Linked DNA regions of Homo sapiens: region 2 is reported to be linked to region 1. The links are microRNA targets in miRTarBase. Many come from high-throughput screens and were not tested one by one. Region 1 holds a microRNA gene; the other region holds the end of a gene's coding sequence.

The links. The annotated mature microRNA hsa-miR-6796-3p reads GAAGCUCUCCCCUCCCCGCAG and lies in region 1 at 2,058-2,078, opposite strand. An mRNA with a match to its seed (bases 2 to 7 or 8) in the 3' UTR can be bound and repressed. Matches are read on the target gene's strand: a 7mer-m8 pairs with bases 2 to 8, a 7mer-A1 pairs with bases 2 to 7 and ends in A, and an 8mer does both.
Region 2: miRTarBase lists ITCH as a target of hsa-miR-6796-3p. The part of its 3' UTR that is shown has no 7-base or 8-base seed match.

The regions. Positions count from the first base shown.
Region 1 is chr19:40,368,721-40,371,964 of GRCh38, reverse strand. It overlaps MIR6796 (microRNA 6796), which reads right to left and starts at 2,119; the gene lies at 2,058-2,119. PLD3 (phospholipase D family member 3) reads right to left here. Exons shown (of 13, transcript NM_012268.4): 7 at 1,937-2,057; 8 at 1,728-1,855; 9 at 92-292. RefSeq lists an enhancer at 1-183.
Region 2 is chr20:34,507,231-34,510,351 of GRCh38, forward strand. ITCH (itchy E3 ubiquitin protein ligase) reads left to right here. Exons shown (of 25, transcript NM_031483.7): 25 at 465-3,121. The coding sequence ends at 564. Among named protein-coding and RNA genes, the nearest start is that of DYNLRB1, 7.6 kb to the right of the region's middle.

The DNA of each region.
Region 1 (3,244 bases):
CCTCCCTGTCATCACCAAACAGGGACAGATGGAGGCTGTGAGTGACGGCATGGGGCTGGGACATGACAGGCCCCACTTGCCCCAGACTCACCGCCAGGTAGGCCAGAGCAGGGGTTCCATTGAGGCAGATCTCCATTGGTGTCTCTTGGTTGTAGCGGGTGTCATAGAACCGGGGCCAAGTTGATGGGATGGAGCTGCCTGCCTGGCCCAGGAACCAGTAGGCCTCAAAGATCTTGGTCAGGTCTCGAGCCAGGCAGCTGCAGTTGTACATGACCACGCCCAGCTCCTTGACCTGTAGGAGGGCAGTGCTGAGCTCAGCGATAGCGGCCTAGTGCTCACAGATGACAGGGACACTCCCCAGTCTGGTCTCTGTCTTTCCCCCTGTCCCACAGTACCCCCTCCACCCCAGCTCCAATAGCTAAAGTCCTAGAATGATTATCAACTTAAGTTTTGATGAAAATCAGTTATTCCAAAGCTCCAGGTTTCCTGAACGTTTGCAATCTGCTGTTGCTTCTACCCTCCACTGAGCTAGCTTCTACTCATTCTTAGGTCTAGGCTGACATGTTGCCTCCTTCAGGAAGCCTCCCATGACTACCCAGCCTGCACCAGGCATTCCTCTGGGCTCTCACAGTCCCTTGGGATTCCCTCCTCATTCTTTCTGGTGACAAACTGGTCTTCCCATTGGGCTGGGAGGACAGGCACTAGGGATGTCTCAGTCACAGCTATATCTACAGCATCTCCCTGCATAATTGCTGAGATTAAAGGTTAGGGGAACTATCTGTTGAGGAAATGAATTCATGAGTTATTGTCCTGTCTTATCTTCACCTCATTGCCCAAGCTGTTTCCTGTTCCATCTTGCGCTAATTCCTCCCTATCCTTCAGGGATCAGATTAGTTATACCTCCTTTGGGAAACCCTCCAATGCCCCAGGTTGGGGTCTCTGAGCTTCCACAGCCCTCTGTTCCCTCCATCCTGGCCCTGACCCTCTGCCTGTGTCTCCCCAACCCCGGCCCTGACCCCTCTGGGCTGTCACTGTCAGGTGACAGGCCAGTCTGCATTGGGCTGGGAGTTCCATGAGGTCCATCTGTTACCACCATGTTCCCAACATTACCCAGGATAGGGCTGGACTTAGAGCAGGCACACAGAGATGTACAATGAAGATCAAATGGGTGCGCAGGTTCTTGAATGCCATGTAGAGGGGCTGGTAGCTGCAATTGGGGATCAGAGGGAGCCCCAGGCTTCCAGGAGCAGGGGGAGGGCAGTAGAGGGCTCCATTTAGGGATTCTTTGTTTTGTAACAGGGTCTCACTCTGTCACTCAGGCTGGAGTGCAGTGGCATGAATACAACCCACTGTAGCCTCAAACTCCTGGGCTCAAGTGATCCTCCCACCTCAGTCTCCCAAGGAGCTGGGACCAGAGGTGTGTGCCACCACACCGGGCTTATTTTTTTTTTTTTGGTAGAGATGGGGTCTCACTATGTTGCCCAGGCTGGTCTCCAACTCCTGGGCTCAAGCAATCCTCCCACCTTGGCCTCCCAAAGTGTTGAGATTATAGGTGTGAGCCACCGTGCATGGCTTGGATTAGGGAGGCCTGGTAGGAGGCAAGAAGGAAGCCATTACAGAGAATGGGTGGAGAGGACTCTGGATTGAGTGAGGGATGCAGTCGGAGGCTGGGTGCCCTGTGGGGCAGGGAGTGGCCTGGAAGGAAGGTAGACAGGGTGCAGACAGACCTGGGTCAGTGAACGCCAGTCCATGTTGGCACTGCCCAGGTAGAAGTGGGTCTGGTCCACCACCCAGAACTTGGTATGCAGGACGCCATGGGTCAGCTTCTGCATGTCCACCATGCGGACCTGGGCACCTGTGACCAGCAGGGGCAGAGATCAGGGGCCAGGCTGGGTACCCCCAGGCCCAGACCAGCCCCAGTTGGGCCCCAGCTCACCGCTCTGCAGCAGAGCCTGCAGGTCCGCCTGTGGCTGGGGCCCGCTGGGCTTGCTCACAGCGATGCGGACGTTCACGCCCTTTGGTGCCAGGGTCTGCAGCTGCCGGAGGACCTCCTCACCCTGCGGGGAGGGGAGAGCTTCTGAGGGGCTGGACCAGCCAGCTCTCCAACCCCACAAGGTAATGCCCGGTGGAGTTATTTTGAGACATGATTAGGAGTAAACAGACTTTACATTAGCCTGCATAGATTAAAGACTTTACAGATTAAAATATTAAAAGACTTCCTTATCTGTTTTAAACATCTTTATCTGCTTTAATAATTAGTTGCCCTGTGATCCCCCTCCAAGTCCTCCTGACCCCTCCTGCCCCTCCAGGGACTTTCTCAAAATTCAGCATCAAGGCAGGGCCTCCAGGCATCTCCCAGTATGGTGGGGGCGAGGCTCAGGCAGGGGGTCCTGGAAGGTATCGGGTGAGGCACGATGATGCCAACAACAGCAACAGTCAAGGATGCCCTGGAACCTACTGTGTGCCAGGCCCTGTTCTAGGCCTCTTCTCAGCGAACTCACTGAATTCTCACAACCCAGTGAGGCTGGTTTAATTATAATCCCCACAGAGAACTCAGTAGTGGAGTGGGATTTTGTTTTTGTTTTTTTGTTTGTTTGTTTGTTGAGACAGGGACTTGCTATGTTGCCCAGGCTGATCTTCAATCCCTGGGCTCAAGCATTCCGCCTGCCTCAGTCTCCCAAGTAGCTAGTACCTCAGGAGTGCACCACCACATCCAGCTATGGAGCAGGATTTGAACCCAGACCATCTGCCTCCTACATCTGTGTTTTAAACCACTTTAGAGGGAGCCAGCAGGGAGTGGGAGCTCATACGGTTTTTTAACATAAAAAAATTTTTTTTTAGAGACAGGGTTTCACTATGTTGCCCAGGCTAGAGTGCAGTGGCATGATCACAGCTCACTGCAGCCTCCAATTCCTAGGCTCAAGTCATTCTCCTGCTTCAGCCTCCCAAGTAGCTGGGACCACAGGTGTGTACCACTATGCCTGGCTTTGGTTTTTAACTTTTGTAATTATTATTATTACTTTTTCTTTTTCTTTTTTTTGAGACAGGGTCTTGCTATGTTGCCTGGGCTGGAGTGTAGTGGCATGATCACGGCTCGCTGCAGCCTCCAACTCCTGGGCTCAAGCCATCCTCCTCCTTCCATCTCCTGAGTATCTGAGACTGCAGGCATGCACCACAACACCCTCCTAATTTTTTTTTATTTTTAGTAGAGATGGTTGAGGGGAGGTGGGGGGCGGGTCTCACT
Region 2 (3,121 bases), not on the chromosome of region 1:
CCTCACATCCTTTTCAACTCTTGTTTTCTTCTGTTTTTTTTTTTTTTTTTTTTTTTTTTGGTTGTTGTTGTTGTTGTTTTGGTGTTTTAAATAATAGCCATCCCAACAGGTGTGAAGTGGTATCTCATTGTGGTTTTTATTTGCATGGTAAAGGATGTTGAGCATTTTTTTAATGTGCTTATTGGTCATTTGTATGTCTTTGGAGAAATCTCTATCCTTTGTTCATTTTTAAATATTGTTGAGTTTTAAGTTTTTTATATATTTTGGATACCAGTCCTTTATCAGATATATGATTTACAAATATTTTTTCCCATTTTTGGGTTATTTCACTTTCTTGATGGTATCCTTTGAAGCACAGTAGTATATTTTTGTGCTTCTATAGTAGTGTATAAAGTAGTATACTACACTACTCATTTGATTCTTTGCATATTTCCTTTTCTCAAACTAACAATTCTTGCTTTTAGTTTTAATCGCCTGGACCTGCCACCATACAAGAGCTATGAGCAACTGAAGGAAAAGCTGTTGTTTGCCATAGAAGAAACAGAAGGATTTGGACAAGAGTAACTTCTGAGAACTTGCACCATGAATGGGCAAGAACTTATTTGCAATGTTTGTCCTTCTCTGCCTGTTGCACATCTTGTAAAATTGGACAATGGCTCTTTAGAGAGTTATCTGAGTGTAAGTAAATTAATGTTCTCATTTAGATTTATCTCCCAGTGATTTCTACTCAGCGTTTCCAGAAATCAGGTCTGCAAATGACTAGTCAGAACCTTGCTTAACATGAGATTTTAACACAACAATGAAATTTGCCTTGTCTTATTCCACTAGTTTATTCCTTTAACAACAATATTTTATGTGTGTCAAAAGTCTCACTTGGGAGTAGTGTTTTTTTCTTTTAGACATTCTGCAGACATGCAGGGAAGTCCTTTGGTAACTGCAATATACAAGATTTTCCTATTAAGCCTCTTGGTAAGAGGCATTTGTTAAAAGTGCAAGCTTACTCCTGCTTCTGGGGATGTGAGCAAAATTCGGGCTTGTGTTCTCCCTCTCATTTTAGTCTGACTTGACTATTGTTTTTCCTTTCTGGCGCATGAATCCATACATCATTCCTGGAAGTGAGGCAAGACTCTTGCATCTCTACAAAGTAGTTTTGTCAATTTGAATTCAGGGAAAAGTTGGTCACAGCCTGCAAATGACTTCATTTGGAAGTCTGATTGTTTCAGTTGCCTGACAAATACTACACTTTACAAACAATGTTAACACTGTGATTCCTTCATTGTTTTAAGAAGTTAACCTAGGGCCGGGCATGGTGGCTCATACCTGTAATCCTAGCACTCTGGGAGGCCGAGGCAGGAGGATCCCTTTAGCCCAGGAGTTAAAGACCAGCCTGGGCAACATAGGGAGACCCTGTCTTTTTTTTGGGCAGCGTGGTGGGGGATAAATAAATAAAAGGAAAAAAAACTTAGCCTAGAATTAGAATTAATTTAATTGAATTCATCTAAAGATGTCTCTGGTGATTTTTATATGTTCCGCTATATAATTGATGCTTTATAGTTTTATCATAATCCAACAACTTCAGTTATATTTAATTATTGTTAAGGAGTTTAAGACTAGAAAGACTAGAGTGCTTTCTAGTCCAAATAGAGGTCAGTGAAACAGCTTTTGACATCAGATTTTCATTTGAGAGGGAGAGCTGTGGTACTGGCTAAAAAGAAAGGAAGATAACATCCAGTAACCACAGGAATATATTCTCTGTGAATTAAAAGTCTTCAAAGTTATCATTTCTCTGACATATGTTGGAGTAGTCATTTCCATTCTTTACATTGTCATGAACTGGATTGATAACCCTCATCTGCAATATTTTCACCCCTAAAATTTTTAACAGGGTTTCCTTTTTTTCTCACGACTATTTAAGTTTAGATTGCTCCATTATTAACTGATTAATGCACTTTGAAGTTCTCTGGAATTAATTATTTTAACTTGGCCTAGCTTCGACTGTCAAGGTGGCTGTTATAAATTTGACTTCATTGGCAGTGGATGAAGCCTAAGCCAGCTGAGTCTCTATCATAGCTGAACCCTGAGGACAGCCTCATAGCTCATGTATCAGGGACTTTTGCCACATTTCAGAGGCATAGCATGAACAAGTAATATTAAGCCAAGAATAAGCAGCAGAACCCTGTTCCATATGGAAAAAAGAAAAACAATTTTTTGTCCCTAATGTTCTTCCTTTTACATCCTGGAACAACAATAAAAACATTTTTTTAAACTTGTCTACTGTAAGATACTGCCATCATAAAGCAGAGACTTACATGAGTGAAAGGGTTGCCTCATCAAGCAGCTCAGTGTAAATGGGGAGGCTAGGCTCTCCCCAGCCCTATGGTTTTTTTATTTCATGTACCCCAGGAAATACTGTGTGGTTTCTAAAAGCCCTGGTTGTTAAAAGTAGGGACTCTGCCTTTTTGTTGGTAGGGAGAAAAAACGCTATTGCTTTGTCTTACAGAGCGAATGTCTGCCAACTACCCGTTCATTATATAAGTCTGAACTTGGTAATATATGGCTAATGAAGATTAAGCCCTCTATAAAGACTTCCTGTTGAGGTGAATTCTCATACTGAAATGTAGTTACCTACAATATTTACTAGAGATTTATGAAATTAAATTAAGAGATAATGTAAGAAAATACATTTTTTTGGTTCTATATAATGCTTCATGATTCATTTAGGGACCTAGAAATATTGTGTGAAAATATATAAATATCACCCAAAAGGCTTTCTGCCCTATATTTTTAAAATACAGAATAGTTATATTTGAAGTAGCCCTGGCCCTAGTTCTATAGGGCTTGGCTATTTAATATTTTTATGGAAGAAGTGTTTAGTTCTGGAAAAGGTAAATGCTTGTATATATTTTTGCAGCCTGGGATCTCCCTACTCCATTTTTTCCTTTAATTTAAGTGGCCACATGTATATGTCTTCCCTGCTGTGTTAGGAAAATGGGGGCTGGATATCCCAAGAATCAGAGGTTATATAAAAATACTGCAAATAGACCGCAGACATAAATATCTACCAAATGCTATCTTAAATTTTGGTCCAAACTGAACATATGGAAATAGATTTATTGTAAGT